Homo sapiens: one gene and its partners. The protein of the gene in region 4 purifies or fractionates together with the protein of the main gene of each other region. This does not show direct contact. Each region holds a gene or a part of one and is shown on either strand. Other genes may lie near its edges.

Region 1 (3,500 bases), on a different chromosome or scaffold from region 4:
GGAGTGCAGTGGCGCGATCTTGGCTCGCTCACTGCAAGCTCCACCTCCTGGGTTCACGCCATTCTCCCGCCTCAGCCTCCAGAGTAGCTGGGACTACAGGCGCCTGCCACCATGCCCAGCTAATTTTGTTTTCGTATTTTTAGTAGAGACAGGGTTTCACTGTGTTAGCCAGGATGGTCTCAATCTCCTGACCTCGTGATCCGCCCACCTCGGCCTCCCAAAGTGCTAGGGTTACGGGCGTGAGCCACCGCGACTGGCTGCAAGGCTGCTTCTTGGAGGCAGAGTGGATGGTCTGTGCAAGGCCGCAGCTTACAGTGTGGTTGGAAAGGCTGCTTATTACAGCGTGGTTGGAAAGGCTGCTTACTACAGCGTGGTTGGAAAGGCTCTGCTTATTACAGCGTGGTTGGAAAGGCTCTGCTTATTACAGCATGGTTGGAAAGGCTCTGCTTACCTGGATTTGAATGTCCTGGGAGTTGATCACTTCCACAATGCCCACCACATTGTCAAACACCAGGCCGAGTTTTTTACAGTTGTCTGTGGGGAGAAAAAACACAACAAAAAACCAACTCCACTAAATACATACAGCTTGTTTATAAAACATCATAATAACCATAGAGCCATAATTCTGCCCTACCAATTATAATGGAGTTTACTTTCCCTTTTATCTGAATAGTTGATTTTTCGCATTTGAAAATGTAAGCCACTTGTTTCAGCTCAGTCTCTGAAATCACAAGGTCATTCCTGTCCTCTTGGTACTCCTAGAATTAAGACAAATACAAATATTAAACATCAGCATATATAAACAGAAACCACTGCACACTGAAATTAGTACGAGCTCAGCATGAAGTATGGCTTTGCAATATATTCTTTTGGAACCATCTCCTTATAGATGAAACCACAGGTCTTACTCTGTCATTGTTAGGATGGGAAAAACGGAACCACTTCTTGGAAGCAAGTCAGTATCTCTTTGTAAACATCAGGTATCAGGCACCCTAGCAGGTGGGAGGCTGGAGCAGGGATGTGAGAGCTTTTTGTTGAGGCCTTGATGCCAAGTCTGGACTTGATGATGCAGCAAAACCTGCTGTGTCAAACAGGAGTTGGGCAAACAGGCTGGTGAAGGGTCACAGCAGTGGTCTAAGCCCTTGTGTTTTCAAGGCGATGACAACTCTCCAGGGACTTTGGTCCTTCATCTTTAGGGAAGCCCTCCAGATCAGCAGGAGACACCAGCTTTCATTACCATTTGAAGTGTCTATGTCCTGCTCACACACTTAGCCCGGGCAGTGGGGGGTGGCAGCAGTAGGGTACAGAGGTATCAATCCCTCCATCCATGGGACTGAACGAAACATCTCACAGCACATCAGAGTGGGGCACAGACTTCCCAGTTCCATATATTAACGGTCTGTCTTGCTGCCTGATTAAAAGCTTATAGAAAGAATAGCTAAATTCATAGAGACAGAAAGTAGAATGGTAATTGCCAGGGGCTGGGAGGGGTGCAGGGGGAGAAACAGGGAGCTATTGGTTAAGGGTACAGATTTTTGGTTCTGCAAGATGAAAAGAGTTCTGTAGTGGGTGGTGGTGATGGCAGCACAACCATATGAACAGACTTAATGCCACTGAGCTGGACAGTTAAACATGGTGAACAGTCCATTTTATGCTACGTCTATTTTACCACCACTCACAAAATAATTTAAAAAGTTGAAGAAAAGAATGCATGAGAACCTGTGAAAATAAAGTTTATGGAAGCATTCAGAAACACCCTGGTTTCTACTCTAGCCAGTGGTTTTTGCCTCTGTCACTTCACCTTGGTGGTTAATGGGTACGAACATATAGTCAGAAGGAATAAATTCTAATTCGACAGCAGAGTAGGGTAAATATAGTTAACAACACTGTCTTAAATATTTCAAAATAGCTAGAAAAGAGGCCTTGAAATGCTTCCATCACATAGAAATGATAAATACTCAAGGTAATGGACACCCTAAATATCCTGACTTGATCATTACCCATTCTTTTTTTTTGAGACAGAGTCTCACTCTGTCACCCAGGCTGGAGTGCAGTGGCGTGATCTCGGCTCGCTGCAACCTCCACCTCTCGGGTTCAAGTGATTCTCCTGTCTCAGCCTCTCAAGTAGCTGGGATTACAGGCACGTGCCACCATGCCCGGCTAATTTTTGTATTTTTAGTAGAGATAGGGTTTCACCATGTTGGCCAGGCTGGTCTCGAACTCCTGACCTCAGGTGATCCTCCCACCTCAAACCCCCAAAGTGCCGATCATTACACATTCTACGCATGTAACAAAATATCACAGGTACCCCATAAATATATACAAATGTTATGTACCAATACAAAAATTAAAAAAAAGAAATCCTTCAGATCTTGGTAAATGGTTTGGCTGTTGGTCCTTTCATTGGCGCATGTCAGGAAAATAAAGGTTAAAATGCTTCACTTACCACTCTCCATTTCTTTCCTTCCAACTCCAACACTGGGGCATGTTTTTGAGAAGGATAAGATTTAGGAGATGTGGGACTTGGAGTGTGACTTTTGGTGGGAGATTGAGTTTGCCCTCCTTGAGCCCGCAGGCTGGGATTTTTGTATGTCTTCTGGTCATCTGTGACATGGCGGAGCCCTAGGAGGACAACACACATGGACACATTTATTTTATGCAAAGGGAAATGTCTCTAACTTGCTAGATCAACATGATGTAAATAAAGAGCACAAGAACTTTTGGTAAGGCCACTTTCAAAACAGTCTAGTGCTTTCTCCAAGTCAGGATGCAGGAGCTGAGTCCTGTACAAGTTGAGAGTTGACAGAAGCACTGTAAGTTGTTGTTGTTGTTGTTGTTTTTTAAATGGAGTCTCGCTCTGTCACCTAGGCTGGAGTGCAGTGGCGTGATCTCGGCTCACTGCAACCTCTGCCTCCTGGGTTCAAGCGATTCTCCTGCCTCAGCCTCCCAAGTAGCTGGGATTACAGGCATGCACCACCACACGCTTAGCTAATTTTTGTATTTTTAGTAGAGATGGGGTTTCACCATGTTGGCCACGCTGGTCTTTGAACTCCTGACCTCAGGTGATCCACCCTCCTTGGCCTCCCAAAGTGCTGGGATTACAGGCGTGAGCCACTGCACCAGCCAAGTATTTTTTTTTTTTTTTTTAATTTGAGGAACCTCTTCTGTTGGGAGATAAAATGATAGATAAAAATTCTGCAAAGAGCAAACCACCTCACGAAAAAGGATCATGTCTTACTTCTTCTCTTACGGCTAAATCATTCTCCAGACACAGCCTAAAAGGTTAGGGCATTCCAGTGAGTATATATCAGGATATGGAATTGACTTTACGAATCCATTCCTTTACTTTGCAAATGAGTTTCACAAGGCACAGCAGAACCAGTTGGAGCCAGAGAAAAATTTAGAATTTTGGATTCTTAGCTCCAAGCCCAGTATAGTGGGATATAATTCTTTGACAAGCCTGTACACTGCTTCAGGACAGAGGAGCTAATGTTTGCCAC
Region 2 (3,500 bases), on a different chromosome or scaffold from region 4:
TACTTGGGAGGCTGAGGCAGGAGAATTGCTTGAACCCAGGAGGCGGAGGTTGCAGTGAGCAGAGATCATGCCATTGCACTCCAGCCTGGGCAACAGAGCAAGACCCTGTCTCAAAAAAAAAAAAAAAAAAAGAGCAACTGTTGGCCTGTGGCTTAGCGCACCCTCACTCAGGTCCCCAGGCACAAGAGTGGTCACAGGAGTGCCCAGTGCTGGCCTGGCGGAAGCTGGGCAGGGAGAATGCTTCCAAACTTGTGGGAAGAGGCCTCTGGGCCTGGCCAGTGTTGCCAAAGGCCTGGGCTCACCACCTCTTCCCTCCTGGAGCTCCACCCACCTGCCTGACCTAGCAAAGCACCCAGGAAGTGCCTGGGCCACTTCCGGGGCTGCAGCTGCCAAGCTTCCTGGCCTTGGGGCCTGGGGTGGCAAGGGTGGCCCAAAGAGTATGGCAGTAAGAGTAAGGGGTTTCCTCCCCATGCCAGAGAGGCTGGAGTGCCATACGACTGCACCCCCACCTGGCAGGACTTCATGGGACCCTTCAGCCACCCCAGCAGCCAGATGCCCCCAGGCCTGGGACTGCTGGCTAAGAATTCCCCCAAAGCCTGGAGCACCCAACTCCATGCAGCTGGTCTAATCCACTGGCCCAGGCCTGGCAATATCCACAGTTACCCTGTCACCTGCCCACTGGCCTTCTGGGTGAGCCAGGGGAGTGGTCCCCACAGGGCTCCCGGCCTGCGGCCTGGAAAGATGGAGCCATCTGGGTGTTGAGGGGGTGCTAGGAATGCTCAGGCAGCCTCTGACCGGATCCTCCCCAGCCCCTCCTCCCTCCCTCTAGGGAGGGGGCTGCCGGGAGGGCCCAGCTTGGGCTCAGCTTCCGGCTACCTTCCTGGAATGCAGAGGGAGGAGGTGGGGAAGGAGGAACCGGGGGAAAAAACACCCATCTGCCCACTTCTCCCTGACTTGGTTCCCAGCTGCCCCTCCCTGGCAGTCATCACCTTCTCAGGGAGGCCTGGGGCTGGCCTAGGAGTCAGGAGCCCTGACTGCCAGTCCTGGCTCTTCCCTGAGCCTGTTTGCTCTTCTGTGAAATGAGTGCTCCCAGGCCCTGCTCCAGGACCTTGATGGGGTCCTGGGCTGGGGCGTCCCAAGGTGGGGGGGCCTGGAGGAGTGGGGAGTGTTGTAGGGCACTCACAGCTCCTTGTAGTTAGCATCGTACAGGGTCGCCCACTTGTTCTGCTGATGAGGCTGCCACTTGATGGACTGGTAGTTGGGGTCCAGGTAGGAGCCACTGAGGCTGTCACTGTCCTGCAGGAGGCCTGGAGGGAGGGAACGCCCATGTGGGCCCTGCACCTTGGGTCCCACACCCCACCTTGAAGAGTTGGCCAGCCATGTACCTGGGGAGGGGGCACCTGGCGGGTGCCAAGGCGGTGTCTGGACACGGGCAATGCTGAGAGGCAAGGAACCAGGGCCCGGGGAGAGCGGACCCTGGGGAGGCCAGGGTGGCGATGGGGCTCGAGTGGGGTGCAGAGGCAGGGCTGTCACGGTCCCAGGCTCCTGTTTGATCATTCCATTCAGCATCTGGGCATTGAGGGTGCTGGGGGGGGATTCAGAGTGCTTCCTCTTCTTGGAGGGGTGTGTAGGGAGCCTGGGGAAACAGAAGTGTGCGCCGTGGGGGCTGGCTCTCCCCGAGCCCCTCCCACTGGGTAGTATCCACCTCTCTCCCCTCTCTAGCCTGTTTGGGCCAGGATGTGCCCCGCCCAGAGGACACCTCCTTCAGGAAGCCCTCAGGCTTTGCCTCCTCCTACTCCCCATTGCTCTGTGCTGTCATTTTCTGCTTCTGTCACTCTTCGCTTCCCCCAGACTGTGGACAGGAGCCACACCTGACTTGGTGTCTCCATCATGCCCAGCAACAGGGCTGGCTTACAGAATCACAGCAATCGCTTGAGGAATGAATGAGTTTGTCCCTGCCTGCAGTGTCACACTCAAGGTCACCCTTTATAGTGGGGGCTCTATGGAGAGCAGGCCCTGTGATCAGAAACAAGCCACAGAGGGCCTGGGCCACAAAAACCAGGGAAGGGGAGCTTCCGCACGGCACTCCTTCCCCTTCTGGTTTACAAAATGTTTTGACAGCAGAACCTTCCTTTGAACTAAACCTTTCATGGAATCTCCACATGTAAAACAGATGAAAAGACAATCGTGCAGGTTGAGTCAGAGTCGGGGGCTTGGGTCTAGGAAGAAGACTCCTCAGAAACCTGAGGGTTCCATGAGACAGCTGCAAAATCACTGGGGTCTGGGTAAGAGCACAGCCCCGGGCCCAGTCCTGGCTCTGCCCCTGGCTCATGATCTGGACGGGACATTTCCCCCATCAGAGCCTCAGTTTACCTACCTGTGCCCACCAGATAAGGTAGTTGTGAGCAATTAGCCATGGCTGTAAACCCCTCAAGGTATTGCTGGGTAAACATGTATAAATATGTTACCCCCATCTGCCCTGCAGAGCCTTCTGCCCTCCCTGGGTGCATCCCGGTCCCTACCTCCCTCTCTGGCCTGCCCGCCGCCCTGCCCACCCTGGTCCCTGTACCCCACCTTCCCACCCCATGGAGCCAGCCACCCACGTCTTACTCAGCTCCGTGCTGCTGCAGGAGCTGGTGCAGCATCTGGGACTGCTGGGTGTGGTGAAGATCAGTGGGCACCAGCCCCTGCCCCATGGCAGCGTAGTGGGGGATCGGGGGCTCGGCCTTCATGTACAGATCCCGCTGCAGGACAGGGTAGTGAGGTGGGGGTGGTGGGGGTGGCGGGGGGCCTGGCAAGTGGGCTGGAGGTGGGGGCGGATGCTCCAGGCGGGAGGGCACTCCCACGTGGCACAGTGTCTCAGGGGTTATCGTGCGCAGGAGGTGGGGCTCTGCAGGAGAGATGGGGGAGCGGGCATCTGAGACCAACCTCACTCAGGCTCCTGGGCACTGTCCTCCCCAAGGCAGAGTCTCCTGCTTCCACCCCGTCCTGAGCCAAGCCCGGGGGCTGCCCCCCACCTACCCTAGGTGGGAGGGCCGTTGGTCAGCCACCTACTAGAGGCCTGGGCAGGGAGGCACAAACCTGCCCAAGGAGGGGCAGCCTTTCACCTCATCCTAGCCACCTCCTGCCCCCAGGCTGGACCAGGAGAATCCAACCCAAATCTAAAGGTCCCCCTCCGTCCCCATCTCCTCTGAGGCCTGCTCCTCCTCTGGGCCTCAGGAAGGCGTCTCCGGAGACCCCCAGCCCAGGCCTGCCCAGTGTTCCCCTCTCCGGCAGGCAGTCCCTCTTCTGGGCTCTCAGGGGCCAGCCCCCCAGCCTGAGCGGGGAGGCCCCAGCTCCCTTTGTTCCCCAGGAGGCATTCCAGGGATGTTTTTGGTAAGATAAACAGAACTCTTGACCCCAATCCGGACTGCGGGGAGCCTGCTCCCGCGGTGGTTCTGCTCTTGGCCACCTGGGGGCCAGGGCACCCCTGAGCACCCTCTAAGGTGAGGTGGGCCCGG
Region 3 (3,500 bases), on a different chromosome or scaffold from region 4:
CTTTGGGAAGCCAAGGTGGGCGGATCACTTGAGGTCAGGAGTTCGAGGCCAGCCTGGCCAACATTTTTAGTAAAGAAACAACTTTTTTTAGTAAAGAAACCTGTCTTGACTAAAAGTACAAAAATAAGCTGGGTGTGGTGGTGTGTGCCTGTAGTCCCAGCTACTTGGGAGGCTGAGACAGGAAAATCACTTGAACCCGGGAGGCAGAGGTTGCAGTGAGACAAGATTGCGCCACTGCACTCTAGCCTGGGCCACAGAGAGAGACTCCGTCTCAAAAAAAAAAAGAAAGTTACAATGGTTGAACCACCTTGTGAATATACTAAAAACCACAGGATTATACGTATATACTTTAAAAGGGTGAATTTTACGGTATATGAATAGTATCTCAATTTTAAAAGGCAAAAAATAAAAAATATTCCTTCCTCATTTTTGTATATTAATATTGTATATAAATCTACATACCTTTCCAATAGCTTCAGTATGATGCTGTGTACATATCTGAAGTCTGCTAACCCAGTGCTGTCGCTCTTTTGCATCTGTAGCTGTTAAAAGAATGTAAAAATTATTTTATATTTATTTATTCTGGAACACAATTAATTGCCTACAGTATGAAGATCAGATCACTGAAAAGCAGATACTGGTCTTACTCTCACTAGAGCAAACTTCCCTGACTGGAGGGAGGCAGGAAAGAGGCCAAAGCACCAACGTTGTTAGGGAACACAGTAGCTGGATGTAGTTACTTCATTAAAAGGAGAAATTACATGCAGTGAGGTGAGGATGAGAGACTGACATGTTGCAACTCATAAAAATAGGTTCTTATTTAAAGAAATAACCCCTTAATTATTTGATGTATAATCAATACTTTCAGATCTGCAGGAGCACGCTCACTTAGGATTACCATTATACTTTGTGTATTCATTAAATAAAAAACTTCTACACAAATTAAATTTATCTTAACAGAAGTTATACGTTATTTTAATGAATGACATTATAATAAATCCCAATAATGTACATTAGTTACTGAAAACTGCAAAAAGGGCACGTAAACTAAACCAAGTAAAGGGGTGAAATACATAAAAAATATCATTTAAAGTCTATGTTTCTAGATTTTCAGTAATCAGAGTTTCACCTACACCGTTTTTCAGAGGGGCCAGTCCTAAACAAACATACATTGTCCCACTTGAAAACAGTTACTTATTACAAAAGATTTCATAAATTCTCAAAGCAGTTCCAAGGTTCAGAATATTGTATTTACATCACTGATGACAGCAGTTTCTATTTCCAAAGCCCATATGAAAGCATGTAAGACACCAACTTCTCAAAAAAAGAGGAAAATCACAGTATTAATTCTCATATTTTGGTCATACCTCTGAGTTTATATTGTTCCCCACTGGCAGCGTTTACAGTGAAGGTGTGAGAATCCTCATCACTGGGTGATATTACAGCTCCTGCAAGCTGCAAAGTTCCTCTAGGTTTCTGATTTCTAGACTGTTCATTCACAAAGTACTCCAACAGCCCAGCTTCATTGTTTAAAACAAAAAACCTGTAATGATTTTTTAAAATCCATAATTTGTAAACATTTTCCCTCAGCAAACTAAAGCAAAGCAAACTTCAATCACTTACACATTTCAGGGTTTTGCTCTTAAAAATAAAATTTAAAAGCATTTCAAGAGGTACCTGGAAACACTACACTGAATTTTCCAGCAGGGAAGATTACTAAAAATCGAATGAGTTAGGCCAGGCGCAGTGGCTCACGCCTCTAATCCCAGCACTTTGGGAGGCAGAGGCGAGCGGATCACCTGAGGTCAGGAGTTCGAGATCAGCCTGGCCAACATGGTGAAACCCCATCTCTACTAAAAATACAAAATTAGCCAGGTGTGGTGGTGCATGCCTGTAATCCCAGCTACTCGGGAGGCTGAGGCAGGAAAATCGCTTGAATCTGGGAGGCAGCGGTTGCACTGCACTAAGATCGAGCCACTGCACTCCAGCCTGGGCAAAAAGAGCAAAACTCCGTCTCAAAAAAAAAAAAAAAAAAAAAAAAAAATTGAATGAGTTTAATAAAAGATATAATAAACCCTTCAGCTGAGGGAGAGGCATTTATTAAGAGGCCTATCAGTTAATGCACAAAAGGAAGCAAAGATACCATATCCTTTCAGAGACAGATTTTTCCCCAGAATTCATTAACAGAGGGTAAACTGCCAAAGGACAAATGGTAGTGAAAATTTTTCTTTAAAATTCACCGGAAATAAATCAAAATATGAGCTCTGAGGTTAAGGCAAGATATACTAGGCAAGATATGCATTGTGATTTAAGAATTAGTGAAATATACAACAAGAATAACAGGGTAAAAAAGATTTTGTGAATGAATCATTAAATAAGTCAAAACTAAAGATTACTTCTCCTGTTTAAAAATGAAAAAGCTGCAATTGGAGATGCTGAAACATAAGGACCTTGAAACTAAATGATGAAATGCTGATACACTCTGGAAAAGAATTTGATGAAATACTAATACACTTTGGAAAAAAAAATTCTGATTTGGTTCTAGATTAACTACTTTCAAAAATACATTTCAGAAATTCCAATTTAAGTAGTGTAATAATTTTTTTTTTTTTTGAGATGGAGTCGTGCTCTGTTGCCCAGGCTGGAGTGCAGTGGCACCACCTTGACTCACTGCAACCTCTGCCTCCCAGGTTCAAGCGATTCTCATGCCTCAGCTCCCAAGTACCTGGGATTACAGGCGCCCACCACCATGCCCAGCTAATTTTTGTATTTTTCGTAGAGATGGAGTTTTGCCATGTTGGCCAGACTGATCTCAAACTCCTGAACTCAGGCGATCCTCCCGCCTCGGCCTCCCAAAGTGCTTGGATTACAGGTGTGAGTCACCTCATCTGGCCCCTTTTTAAAAAAGGAACGCTAGGCCAGACACGGTGGCACACACCTGTAATCCCAGCACTTTGGGAGGCCAAGGCGGGTGGACTGCCTGAGCTTAGGAGTTTGAGACCAGGCTGGGCAACACGGTGAAACCCCGTCTCTACTAAAATACAAAAAACTAGCTGGGCGAGGTGGCGTGCACCTGTAATCCCAGCTACTTGGGAGGCTGAGACAGAAGAATCACATGAACCCTGGAGGCAGAGGTTGCGGTGAGCTGAGATTGCACCACTACACTGCAGCCTAGGTGACAGAGTGAGACTCCATCTCAAAAAAAAAAAAAAAAAAAAAAAAGTAACTCTAAAAAGGGCTGGATGAGTTGAGATTGCTTGAATCCAGGAGTTCGAGACCAGTCTGGCCAACATGGCAAAACCCTGTCTTTACAAAAAAAAATACAGAAATTAGATGGGTGTGGTGGTGCATGCCTGTAGCTCCAGCTACTTAGGAGGCTGGGGCAGGAGGATGATTTCAGCCCGAGGTGGAGGTTACAGTGAGCTGAGATCATGCCACTATACTCCAGCCTGGGCAACAGAGCAAGACCCTGTCTCAAAAATAATTAATTAATTAATTAA
Region 4 (3,500 bases):
GCGTGAGCCACCGCGCCTGGCTACAAGTTTTTAAGTGATTCAAATTCCTCTCTTGGTGAGACTTATGTGTGAAAGGAATACTAACAGGTCAGTAAGTTAGCTCAACCTCTGGAATAAGAATTCATCTAAGTCTTCTAATCCAATTGTAAGAAGCAAGGAAGCAAATTTTAAATCATTGGGTATTGACTTTTTATTATTAGTCACTGTTCATAATTTGTTTCAACCAAAAGACAGTACACACAGCAGAATTCTAATGCATCCCATGTAAATGTTTACATCCATTTTATTCCTCACTCGCCTCTAAGACTTATCATTTAACTTTAAATTTTTTTTTTTACATCTCAAAAATATGTCTGCAATAATTAGAGCTTCATTAGCTGTCCCACTTGGAAACAGCTTTTTAATATTTTTACAGTAAAGAAGATGTGATGGGGCATAATGAAAATGTAACTTACAACACTAAGAAAGAAAAGGGCCTTTATAGGAACACAGTGGGAGTTCATAAAGGAAAGAGTTCAGAAGCTCTTTCCCATGGGGCCCCCAAATGGAAAACAAAAACAAAACACACAAAGCGCAACCGCAGGTTCTTTGAGGGAAGAAAAAAAAAAAAAAAAAAACCAACTCCAAGGCTCCATCTTGAAGCCAGAATCAGCCTCTTGGAAGTCTGTAAAGCAACTGTGCAAGCTGCTTCGGCATTTCCTTCTGTTAAAGTGTTCCAGGTCCTGGAACCCTGTCGATGGGACCCACTCACTGATATTGCTTGAAAAAGTTATTCACTTCCAGTTCTACAAGCAGCCCCACTCTCCCGAGCCAAAGCTGGTCAAAAGTGTTTTAAACTTCAGGACTTTCTGTGCAATTCTCTCTCCAATGATCCTACCCACTCCCAAAGTCATGAATACACAGACATGTAAAACCACTCTCCCAACTACAAAGTTCATGAACACCCACTTTTTCCTCTCTAGTTTTCTCAGTTTAGGACACTGTGGTTAAAATACATTCACTAGAAAAAAATAGACACATTCAAACTCCTTTCCCCTAGTTCTCATGGCCCAAATATTTTCCAATGCAGAAGATAATGAAGTTGAACCTTGAAAGCAGTACTCCCTAACTTCCAATTTCTACGACATAAAAAAAATGGGAAGCATGTTATATAAACCATTAGTGTTGGACAGTTTTAAAAGTCTATTTTCATATATGAATGGGACAAACAAGGAGTACAAATCACACCTTTAAACTAGCAAGAGGAAAGAATCCCCTCCCAAATGTTACACTGAGGAATGTTTCTTTAAATGATAAAGACCTTAAAATTAACAGATGATCACTATGCACAGCCTAAAACTTCCGTGACTGTCCAAACCACCTCAAGGTAACAGCACCAAAGCACTGTGGGAGAAGCTTCTCAGGGAGAGCACCCTTCCTACAGTTTTTTGAGATTACTTAGATGAATTAATTCTCCTTTAGGATTCCCCGGGATGGGGCAGAAACTAGAATAGAAACGACTCTTGAAGAGGGAAATAATGAAGTACAAGTGCATGTGAAATTGTCAAAGTAAGTGTGTGAGGGCTCACTGCTTATCACCCCAGGGTTATCAAAACAGCCTTGGAAAATGCTCTTTCCTCACAATGCCTGTGAAGTCGTAAATCCATCCAAATTTGCTCCCCCTTGAGTGGTTATACTCGGGAAAGGAATTATTGAAATGTGCAAGTATTCAAAGAAATTGAAACATTTCTCCATTTAGCTGCAAGGCCAAGTGAGAGGAAAACTAATTCTGATCCTAGAAACTAAGGCACGCTGAAGCTTTCAAAGATCCAATCATTTGAAACAGTCTTCACAACCATCAGTATCCTAGGCAGTTATTTGGCTGCTAGTCCTTCAGTATGGTGCTTGTGTTCTGATTCCAAAATCAATTCATATTCTACGCAGCACCCTTTGTGTTAAGGCCATGATATTTTACTCCTTCTAGACAAAGCTATGAATGATCATAAACTCTACCTCGAAACTATGATCACCCAAGGAAATGCTCTGTCAGCAGAGTAGACCCTTCCCAGCTCCATTAGCTGACAGTGTCTTATAGCATGGTCTTGAACAGATTTCTTCAGAGATTCAACCCAGTTCAAATAAAAAAACCTGAGCTGGTTAGCTACAAATATAAGAGAGAAAATAAAGCCTCTACACAAAGAGGAATGTTAAGACAAATTCTATTCAAGAAATCCACCAACATTATGTTAATCCTATCATGTTTCACAGCATTAAGTATCCATCCAATGAAATCAGTCTGCAAAGAAACCCTTAAAGGCTATTTTTCATTGCACAGGCAGAGCAGTTGTCTGAAATATGCACTAGTCCACACTTACATTACTGAAAACTATGCAGGAGATATTATCCTGTTCTTGACTCAGTCAACCATTTACCCAGTGGAGTAAGTTTTAGCAGATCTTGCTCATACACACTAGTAAGACCAGAAACTTTCCCGTGGAGCCTTTAGTTCAACTCCAGTTTGTCAAATGTTAGGAATATTCCAGCATCTGATACAGAGCTAGATTTGACAAGACACTGAAGATTTTAAGTAAAGGCTTGGTGAAATGAAGGGGAAAAAAAGGGATATTTGTTTCCAGGTTTAAGATTGAAGCCATAGTAGTCATTATACTGTATTCAATACAGTAACAATTGCAAACATTGTAAGAGCAAGGTGGGCCTCACTTTTTCTTTCTTCAGTATATAAGACATGGCGCCTGAATACTTGAACATACATAGTACATTCAATGTGTACCACAGAGAGAGTCACCTCTACTTCATTCCAGCAACTCAATTTCAAAGTTTGATAACATATGGGTCCTTTCTAAAAAGCACTTGGCACTCTCACTAGTTTAAAAAGCTCAAGTCTTTGATGTGAATATTCATGAGATTCGTCTTTTAAAAGAGACCAATTTCTCAGACTGAGGAAAGGCTATTCCTACCCTATGGTGTCCGTAAGACCTCCTCTGACATAGGGGTATGGAAGCTACAAGGCTTCACTCCAACACCATAAAGTACAATATGGAAAGATTTCTTTAACCGTGTGGTCTTTATTTCAGTGCCAGTGTTACAGATACAACACAAATGTTCCAGTTAGAAGGAATTCAAACGGAATGCCAAGGTCCAAGCCAGGCTCAAGAAATAAAAAGGGAGGTTTGGAGTAATAGATAAGATGACTCCAATACTCACTCTTCCTAAGGGCAAAGGTACTTTTGATACAGAGTCTGATCTTTGAAACTGGTGAACTCCTCTTCCACCCATTACCATAGTTCAAACAGGCAAGTTATGGGCTTAGGAGCACTTTAAAATTTGTGGTGGGAATAGGGTCATTAATAACTATGAATATATCTTTTAGAAGGTGACCATTTTGCACTTTAAAGGGAATCAATTTTGAAAATCATGGAGACTATTCATGACTACAGCTAAAGAATGGCGAGAAAGGGGAGCTGGAAGAGCCTTGGAAGTTTCTATTACAAATAGAGCAC
Region 5 (3,500 bases), on a different chromosome or scaffold from region 4:
GCCACGTGAGGTGGCGCATGCCTGTAATCCCAGCTACTTGGGAGGCTGAGGCAGGAGAGTCGCTTGAACCCAGGAAGCAGAGGTTGTGGTAAGCCGAGATTGCGCCATCACACTCCAGCCTGGGCAACAAGAGCAAAAAACTCCATCTCAAAAATAAAAAATAAAAATAAATAAATAAATATCACAAAGCTAGTAAGCTGAAATTTGAACCCAACCATATTGTTCATATAGTAAGTGCTTCATAAATGTTGATATTCATGACTTATTATCTGACACCATTTTGTTTGTTGACATGCTAACTGCCTGTCTCAGACACCAGAAAACAAGCCCTTGAGAGCTGAAACTGGATGCTATACGTACCAGTGCCTAGAACTCTACCTGGCACACAGCAAGTGCACCATATTAAAATTAAAATGCTGTTAAAAATGCATCAGCAAGGCCAGGCACGGTGGCTCATGCCTGTAATCCCAGCACTTTGGGAGGCTGAGGCGGGCAGATCACGAGGTCAGGAGATCGAGACCATCCTGGCCAACACAGTGAAACCCTGTCTCTACTAAAAATACAAAACTTAGCTGGGCGTGGTGGTGCGTGCCTGTAATCTCAGCTACTCAGGAGGCTGAAGCAGAAGAATCACTTGAACCCAGGAGGTGGAGGTTGCGGTGAGCCGAGAACATGCCACTGCTCTCCAGCCTGGGTGACAGAGCAAGACTCCATCTTAAATAAATAAATATCCATCAGCAACCTTGGTTGCTTAGGAAGGCCTAAGGTAGTAGCTCTCAGACTTTAGTCAACACACAAACAAGAACAAACATAAGGGCCGGGTGCAGTAGCTCACGCCTGTAGTCCTAGCACTTTGGGAGGCTGAGGCGGGCGGATCACCTGAGGTTGGGAGTTCAAGACCAGCCTGACCAACATGGAGAAACCCTGTCTCTACTAAAATTACAAAATTAGCTGGGTGTGGAGGCACATGCCTGTAATCCCAGCTACTCAGGAGGCTGAGGCAGGAGAATCACTTGAACCCAGGAGGCAGAGGTTGCAGTGAGCCGAGATCACACCATTACACTGCAGCCTAGGCAACAAGAGCAAAAAAACTCCATTTCAAAAAAAAAAAAAAGACACAAGAATGCAGATTCTTGCCCCCATCCCCCAGCGATGCCAAAGCAAGTGGTCCTATGACCCCACTCTGAGAAATAGCACTTAAAGAACAGTTCCTGGTACCGGGCCGGGGCTCTCTGACTGCCCCTCCTGCCACTCTCCCCACAGGACTGAAGTCTGAAGCTTGACCTCCAGATAGGGCAGCCAATGTTGGGGAGGCTTAGGAATCAGTAAAGCAGGAAGGCTTCCTGCCTGCAAGCTGGGGAGAGCTGTGTGCAGAAGGCACGCTGGTGACAATCGCCCAGCCTGGGGAAGGCCAGGAGCATCAAGCTGGGCTGGGCGGGGCGGCGGGCGGGGGGGGCGCGCGGGGAGGTAGAGGAAAAGGGCTGGCACCCCAGCGTGGTCAGAAGCTGACACTAGACACTCGCTTCCGGAATCCCAGGGTCTCCTAAGGGCTCCTCAGCACAAACTGCCAGGGCAAATGCTCTCAGATTCCCACACCCGAGGTGCTCACTCCAAACGAAATCTCATTTCCCACCACTCACCTTGGCACACCTTATGCTGTACCCATCTCCCTAAATACACCAGGTGTCTAAAAGTCTGGGCCTCATTCGTGTTCTTCTCTCTGCCTGGAATGCCAACCACTCCCACTCTATCTCCTTCCTTCAAGGTCCAGATCAATGTCACCTCTTTCATGAAACCTCTCCAGATCACAGCAGCTGATGGTGGGTCTAGGCCCTACACATTTGGTCTCTGTGCTGTGACTCATCTCTCTCACTACACGTGAGCAGAGACTGTGTCTCCATTACCCACTCACTCAATACCCACTGAGCAGACACTGGGAACCAGGAACCGACATGTTGATGATTTCACAGTAACTAACAAGTCGCAGCCCTGGCCTCTCAGGGGAGGGCAGACGCCCTAAAGGCCAAGTAGGAGGAGCCCCTTACCCAGCGTGTGCAGAATGAGCTTTGGGTGCCCGCCTTCTTTGACACGGACAGGTACTACATGACCAATCCATGTGTGTAACGGGGGGGAAACCATGGGGCCTGGCTGCCAGGGAGAAGAGGAGCCGGCAGGTACTGATGCAGCAGTCACCCACTGAGCACTAACCTGAACTGGGAGCAACTGCTGGCTGGACGAGGGATCCCCCCACAGCCAACTGCTCCCCAGGGGGAGGGATCAGGGTGGAGGTTTTCCCCCCTGGGGGAGGGGGAAGCAGGCTCAGCCCTCCTGTGCTGGCAGGCCGGACTCGGGGATTCCCAGCTGCTCCTTCCTTCTTCTTCATGTTCTAAAGAGGGAAGAGGAATGCAAATCAGCCCGTTCTGCTGGAGTCCCAATGCTACCAGAAAACCCCACAAGGAGGGCCAAGGTGACCCCAGACCCCCAACATCTGTGTAACCAAAAGATGGTCCTACCTAGCACCTCCATTGCTATGAGCTATACTTAGTGCATCATCATTCTGAATCTCTCACAAATAAGGTCCATTTTAAAACCCAGCACCCCCACTTCATTCATCAGGGAAATGCAGATCAAAGCTATAATGATATACCATTACACGCTCACCAGAATGGCTAAAATGTAGATTATCAAGTATTGACTACGATATGAAGTAACCATTCACGCGCTGCTGGCTTAAGTGTAAACTGGTAAAACTACTTTGAAAAATTATTTGAAAGGATTATAAAGCTCAACATAGGAACTTAAACTTATGACTCCGCAGTTCCACTCCTAGATATAAACCAACAGAAATCATACATATATGCACCAAAAACATGAACTCAAACATCTACAGCAGCATTATTTGTAATCGCCCCAAACTGGAAACTACCCAAATGTCCATCATCAGTAAAACATAAATAAATCGGGTGAATTCTCACAATGGTACATGCCACAACAATGAGAATGAACAAACTACACGCAACACCATGGATGACTCTCACAAAAATTACATTGAGTAAAAGAAAGAAATCATTCCAAATCAAGATTAGGTGTATGATTCAATTCATGAAAGTTAAGAACAAACAAAATCTAGGGTATGTGAAGTCAGGATGGGGTTACTCAGGGCAGTTACTGGGAGGGGCCAGGAGAGGTGTTTCCAGAGTGCTGACAATCTTTTGCATCTTGAGCAAGGTGCAAGTTTATAAATTGGGTGTTTTGTTTTGTTTTGTTTTTTGAGCCAGAGTTTCGCTCTTGTTGTCCAGGCTGGAGTGCAATGAATGGCTCGATCTCAGCTCACTGCAACCTCCACCTCCCAGGTTCAAGCCAATTCTCCTGCCTCAGCCCCCGGAGTAGCTGGGATTACAGCCATGGACCACCATGCCCGGCTAATTTTGTATTTTTAGTAGAGACAGGGTTTGTCCATGTTGGTCAGGCTGGTCTCGGACTCCCGACCTCAGGTGATC
Region 6 (2,400 bases), on a different chromosome or scaffold from region 4:
TAAAAATCACGAAGTATGCCTGCAGGCACTGGCATTCGGCAGAGCTGTTTAAGACACCCCTGCAGCAAGGAAATTGAACTAAGAGCAGCACAGGCATTCCTGGTGCTGGGAACCATGACCACAAAAGGCTGCCCAGGGTCTGAGTGCTTTGAGCCAGGTGGGAGGGGATCTGCCCTAAGGACATAAGGCACGCTGGCCATGCCCTAGCAGCCTGGTCACCGTAACTTTCCTCTTCACAGAGCAAGGAGTTAGGACATGGAGAAGGTGAGAATTGAACCCAGCTCAAATTAACAGTCACATGGACCCAAGTACCTGCTCACTATGGCCTCACTGGTGCCTCCATCTCTTCCTAGGCAGAGAGGGCAGGAAGAGGTGGCAATTACATTTTCTTTGTCCAGAAAACTGGCAGGTGTGGTGGGGTTGAGCCCTCTGAGTTATCATCTGAACCAGACAGCTCCAGGAAGTCCCTTCCTTCCCTGGAACCAGCAGGGCAGGCGATGTGGGAGTTATTAATTCTTTATTAGGATTCAGGTTTCAAACAAGGTAGAAGGCAGTGGCAAGAGGGGTTCAGGTAGGGGGATGATGAGGGAACACCAGACTTGGCTAGTTGGGCCACTGCCAGAAGCCAAATGGGAACCCTGGGCTGGAAGGGGTGTGGAGAGGGGTGGACAAGGGGCCAGCCTAGAGGAGCAGACGGGGTCAGCGGATGGTGTATCGGACATAGGGAACCTCGACATCCTCGCCGCTCTCGTCGTTACAGCACAGCTCAAGCACCAGCGCCCGCACGTGGCGGCCCAGCTTTCGCTTCGACACACGGCTCACAATCTCTGTCATCCTGGGGATAGGGGGATGGGAGTATAGGGTCAGGAGGGCAGAAAGCAAGAGAGGATGGGCAGGTAGGTAGGGGCAGTGAACTGGAGTGGGACAGCTGGATGATGAGGCTCCCCAACCCATACAGGGCCTCCCCTAGCCTGGCCAGTGTCCAACTCACGGCTGATCCAACCGTTCCTTGAGCTTGGCAGCTGGCATGAAGAAGGAATAGAGCATGGACACGCCCTGGGACAGCATGGTGATCTCTAATTTGTGCTCTGTCTGGAGAGGGAGGGGGAACAGCAGGGTCATGGAGGTGGACAGGCCAGCAAGTCACCGTGTACACCTCGCCCCCTGAGGTGGGGTGACAGAGTAAGGGAGGGGCCTTACCTTAAAATAGTCGAGGAACTGTTTGAGGGTCATCTCCTCACCATTAGGCTGCAGCCCTTGTACCTCAAAGCGATCCCACAATGTCCACTCTTGGTTATAGTACTGCAAGACAAAGAGGGGAGTGTAAGATGGAGACCATCCCAGAGGGTCCAGCCCCCATCTGTCTCCATCCCCCCTACCCCCATGCAGACGTGTTTAGTCAGATCACAACCCTCTTTTGTTCGAAATCCTCTTGTGGTTCCTATCTCACCCTAAGCAATGAAATTCTGTTTTCTTCTCATCTCCTACCCTCCTCAATCTCACACTCACTCTGGGGACTTTGAATTCCTCCAACTTGCCAGGCACACCCCTATCTTGGTACCCTTTCAAGAACTGGTCCCTCTGCCTGGAATGTGTCCCCACTCGCCACCAAGCCTGCACAGTTTGTCCCCTTACATCCTCCAAGTCTGATCTCAAATGTCATCTTTTCAGCAAGGCCTTTTCTGACCATCCTACACAAAATCTCAAATACATCCCCTCGCCCCCTGGTATTCTCAAGTCCTCTTTATCTTTTTTTTTTTTTGAGATGCAGTCTCGCTCTGTCACCCAGGCGGGAGTGCAATGGCGCCATCTTGGCTCACTGCAACCTCCGCCTCCCGGGTTCAAGTGATTCTCTTGCCTCAGCCTCCCGAGTAGCTGGGATTACAGGTGCCTACCACTACGCCTGGCTAATTTTTTGTATTTTTAGTAGAGACAGGGTTTCATCATGTTGGCCAGGCTGGTCTCAAACTCCTGACTTCAGGTGAACCACGTGCCTCGGCCTCCCAAAGTGCTGGGATTACAGGCGTAAGCCACCACGCCCGGCCTCTTTTTATCCTTTTTTGATTCCAAAATCATTTAATAGGTTATTTATATAATCTACTTGAGGAACATAACTTAGAAGAGTCCCTGCACACAAAAGGTGCTCAATAAATATTTGAGTGAATTCATTAATGAAGCAAGCAAAGCACTTAAGTGTAGGAAGCGTCCAATAAATTTTGGCTGCCATTATTGTGTAGTTACTAATAATCTCCCAGGGCACAATTCAAATATCCCATCTTTTCGCACGTACTCAAATAATGTGATTAATGAATAAGTGAAAAAGGATACACAAAAAGGGTAGGTACACAGACAGAAACCCTCACCTGGTGACAGGGTATGACGTGAATCAGAACCAGATCT
Region 7 (3,500 bases), on a different chromosome or scaffold from region 4:
ACTGTTTCACTCTTGTCGCCCAGGCTGGAGTGCAATGGCGCAATCTCAGTTCACTGTAACCTCTGCCTCCTGGGTTCAAGTGATTCTCCTACCTCAGCCTCCCGAGTAGCTGGGATTACAGGCACGCACCACCATACCCAGCTAATTTTTGTATTTTTAGTAGAGATGAGGTTTCACCACATTGGCCAAGCTTGTCTTAAACTTCTGACCTCAGGTGATCTGCCCACCTCGGCCTCCCAAAGTGCTGGGATTACAAGCATGAGTCACCATGCCCAGCCCAGTATACAACTTTAGAGAAGTCACTTTACCCCTCTGAGCCCAAATTCCCGCACTAAAAAAATGCAATAATTATGGGACAAACCAGAGAATGTTCGTGAAATACTCTGTAAATGATAAAACATTAACTCAAAATATTTCTCATTTCAGAAAATTGAAAAGCAAATGTTTTGACAGCCATTTAAAAACAACAGGCAAATACAACCATATTCCTCCGTGTTTTTCCCTCTGCCAATATTTACTTAAGATACCTGCCAGTTTGCTGAGATGATGCTGTCTTACACTGAGCAAAGAGATTCAAACCTGTGCTGTCCTCTGAAGATAGAAAACAAGAGCAGGTACCTCACTGAATTGCCAAATATTCCACATATTGAGGCTGAAAAGCCAACAAGCAGTCTTCCTACAGCCCTCTGTCACCTCAGACTTAACGGGGGGGGTAAACTGGCATCTCCCTGCCCCTGCACACGTTTCTGTTTAAAGTGCTGTCTTAATTTTTTTCCAAAGTTCTCAATTTAGGAAGCACCAAATTTACTCCCATAGACATCAAAAGAGAATGGAGGCTGGGCCCGGTGGCCCACGCCTGTAATCCCAGCACTTCCAGGAGGCCAAGGTGGGCAGATTACTTGAGGTCAGGAGTTTGAGACCAGCCTGGCCAACATGGTGAAACCCCGTCTCTACTAAAGATACAAAAATTAGCCAGGCGTGGTGGTGGGTGTCTGTAATCCCAGCTACCCAGGAGGCTGAGGCAAGAGAATTGCTTGAACCCAGGAGGCAGAGGTTGCAGTGAGCTGAGATCATGCCACTGCAGTCTAGCCTAGGTGACAGAGCAAAACTCTGTCTCAAAACAAAAAAAGAAAGAGAGAGAGAGAGAATGGAGAGGGTGCCATCAAGGCACAAGAAACCTACACCCACCCTCATCACATGAAAACACCTCTTCCCAACCCAGCATCTGTCCTATCTCTAAAACACACTCCTCTCATGGGTAAAGAGCCTTAAAAAGCAACTTGCAACCATTTTTCTTAAAGACGTTTCCTTAAAGAAGTTTCTTTTTGGAGATGTGGTATAAATCATGGCTCCTAATCCTTCCTTTCGCTTTCTAAACAACACTCACTGTTTTTCCTTTCCCACAGAACCTAACGTTTAAATCCATGAACCAGTTTTTACCCTTGAAAATGCAACCAGGAAGTGAAATATAAAGCATGGGATTCTGCCAAAACTTGCCAAGCTGGGAAAACCTTTCTTAACCTTCAATGAGGGGGTTCAGAATTTCTATTTTAGTATATATGTAAGCTGCTAGTTTCCCAGAAATTCTTTGTGGGACTATTACCCCCAGGTTTGAAATAAAGTTTCTGGGACTGCTGTTCCCAGCAACATCTCAATAAGAAGGATGACAAATAAGGCTGGGCATGGTGGCTCATGCCTGTAATCCCAGCACTTTAGGAAGCCAAGGCGGGTGGACAGCCTGAGGTCAGGAGTTCAAGACCAGCCTGACCAACATGTGAAACCCCGTCTCTACTAAATTACCCGGGCATGGTGGTGGGCGCCTGTAACACCAGCTACAAGGGAAGCGGAGGTTGCAGTGAGCCGAGATCACACCACTGCACTCCAGCCTGGGCAACAAGAATGAAACTCCATCTAAAAAAAAAAAAAAAACGTCCAGGCACGGTGGCTCACACCTGTAATCCTAGCACTCTGGGAGGCCAAGGCAGGCGGATTGCCTGAGGTTAGGAGTTCAAGGCCAGCTTGGCTAACATGGTGAAACCCCATCTGTACTAAAAATACAAAAAAATAGCCAGGCATGGTGGCGCATGCCTGTAGTCCCAGCTACTCAGGAGGCTGAGGTGGAAGAATCGCTTGAACCCGGGAAGCAGAGGTGCAGTGAGCCGAGATGCCGCCACTGCACTCCAGCCTGGGTGACACAGCAAGACTCAGTCTCAAAAAAAAAAAAAAAGGAAGATGATATATAAGTGAATCAATAGGTTTGACATTCTACAAGATAAATTTCACTGCCATGAAGTTCAACATTTATCTAGGGAGGAAAATATAGAAGACAGGACAGACTCCTTCCTAGGGGTGGCCCAGAAGACTGTCGGTTGGGTGAGGTCATAATTAAGGGCAGCCTCCTGGGCTGTCCAGTATTCACTGGCTTTCCTAAGGGCCTTCTAGGCCTGGTGTCTACAAAATCCCCAACTGAACATCTGTCACATTTGGTTCATCCTTCACTCTCCAACTCCCTTTGATTTCAGACTAAAAAATGGGTTGCTGAATACAAAACACACACCCTTGATACTTGGCATTATCTCCAGAGGTAACCTTCTGAAGGACTCATGCCTGGTCCCCACTCCCTGCCTCGGAGGACCAGGTTCTTAACTGCCCACTCCCAGCCTCCTGGAGCCCTAAGCCCTGCCTGGGCTCCCTGCTCCTCCCTGCTGCCCAGGGGGGCATGGATACAGGTGCTTGTGCTCTATGGTGTCTTGGAGTGGGGCATGGTGGTGGCAACTCCTAGCATATGAGGTAAATGCACTGATATTCACATTTAAAACATTATATTCTACAATATAGAAATAACTATAAAATTTATGCTAATAATTTAAACTTAATTTTTCTTTATGTAGAATTACATTAAATAGAAAAAAAAATTTTTTTTTTGAGACAGAGTTTTACTCTTGTTGCCTAGGCTGGAGTGCAATGGTGCAATCTTGGCTCACCGCAACCTTCACCTCCTGGGTTCAAGCGTTCCTCCTGGCTCAGCCTCCCAAGTAGCTGGGATTACAGGCACTCGCCACCATGCCCATAAATAGCAATTTTATTTTTTTTTAAATGACAAGTCAAGGGAAAAACTACAGAAGAACAAAATTTTACATTTTAGGATCTCTAAAGATGCTTTTTTTTTTTTTTTTTGAGACAGAGTCTCATTCTGTCGCCCAGGCTGGAGTGCAGTGGCGTGAGCTCAGTTCACGGCAACCTCCGCTTCCCAAGCTCAAGTGATCCTCCCACCTCAGCCTCCCTAATAGCTGGGACTATGGCCATGCACCATCACACCCGGCTAAGTTTTGTATTTTTTGTAAAGATAGGGTTTTACCATGTTGCCCAGGCTAGTCTCAAATTCCTGAGCCCAAGCAATCCTCCTGCTTTGGCCATTCAAAGTGCTGGGATTACTGGGTGTGAACCACCACGCCCGGCCTAAAGATATTCAGTTGGTGCAAAAGTAATTGCAGTTTTTA

What was found.
Region 1: the proteins of AP1G1 (region 4) and CAP2 fractionate together in Homo sapiens (co-fractionation; one large-scale study listed by BioGRID). This does not show direct contact.
Region 2: the proteins of AP1G1 (region 4) and MYRF fractionate together in Homo sapiens (co-fractionation; one large-scale study listed by BioGRID). This does not show direct contact.
Region 3: the proteins of AP1G1 (region 4) and OSBPL11 fractionate together in Homo sapiens (co-fractionation; one large-scale study listed by BioGRID). This does not show direct contact.
Region 5: the proteins of AP1G1 (region 4) and NECAP2 purify together in Homo sapiens (affinity purification with mass spectrometry; 3 studies listed by BioGRID and IntAct, with this or other methods). This does not show direct contact.
Region 6: the proteins of AP1G1 (region 4) and UBA1 fractionate together in Homo sapiens (co-fractionation; 2 studies listed by BioGRID). This does not show direct contact.
Region 7: the proteins of AP1G1 (region 4) and PLEKHA7 purify together in Homo sapiens (co-immunoprecipitation; one large-scale study listed by IntAct). This does not show direct contact.

Annotation. Positions count from the first base shown.
Region 1 is NC_000006.12:17,540,095-17,543,594, reverse strand, and holds part of CAP2 (adenylyl cyclase-associated protein 2), read right to left. Parts: intron 2,623-3,500; coding exon 2,447-2,622; intron 759-2,446; coding exon 635-758; intron 535-634; coding exon 452-534; intron 1-451. UniProt on the Homo sapiens protein: Involved in the regulation of actin polymerization.
Region 2 is NC_000011.10:61,769,636-61,773,135, reverse strand, and holds part of MYRF (myelin regulatory factor isoform 2 precursor), read right to left. Parts: intron 2,891-3,500; coding exon 2,611-2,890; intron 1,637-2,610; coding exon 1,386-1,636; intron 1,308-1,385; coding exon 1,184-1,307; intron 1-1,183.
Region 3 is NC_000003.12:125,578,498-125,581,997, forward strand, and holds part of OSBPL11 (oxysterol-binding protein-related protein 11), read right to left. Parts: intron 1,544-3,500; coding exon 1,368-1,543; intron 543-1,367; coding exon 463-542; intron 1-462. UniProt on the Homo sapiens protein: Plays a role in regulating ADIPOQ and FABP4 levels in differentiating adipocytes and is also involved in regulation of adipocyte triglyceride storage. Weakly binds 25-hydroxycholesterol. Interacts with OSBPL9 to function as lipid transfer proteins.
Region 4 is NC_000016.10:71,728,835-71,732,334, forward strand, and holds the end of AP1G1 (AP-1 complex subunit gamma-1), read right to left. Parts: 3' UTR 166-3,500; downstream 1-165. UniProt on the Homo sapiens protein: Subunit of clathrin-associated adaptor protein complex 1 that plays a role in protein sorting in the late-Golgi/trans-Golgi network (TGN) and/or endosomes.
Region 5 is NC_000001.11:16,450,724-16,454,223, reverse strand, and holds part of NECAP2 (adaptin ear-binding coat-associated protein 2), read right to left. Parts: intron 2,387-3,500; coding exon 2,209-2,386; intron 1-2,208. UniProt on the Homo sapiens protein: Involved in endocytosis.
Region 6 is NC_000023.11:47,213,229-47,215,628, reverse strand, and holds the end of UBA1 (ubiquitin-like modifier-activating enzyme 1), read right to left. Parts: intron 1,303-2,400; coding exon 1,201-1,302; intron 1,093-1,200; coding exon 992-1,092; intron 836-991; coding exon 700-835; 3' UTR 501-699; downstream 1-500. UniProt on the Homo sapiens protein: Catalyzes the first step in ubiquitin conjugation to mark cellular proteins for degradation through the ubiquitin-proteasome system.
Region 7 is NC_000011.10:17,004,415-17,007,914, forward strand, and holds part of PLEKHA7 (pleckstrin homology domain-containing family A member 7), read right to left. Parts: intron 1-3,500. UniProt on the Homo sapiens protein: Required for zonula adherens biogenesis and maintenance. Acts via its interaction with CAMSAP3, which anchors microtubules at their minus-ends to zonula adherens, leading to the recruitment of KIFC3 kinesin to the junctional site.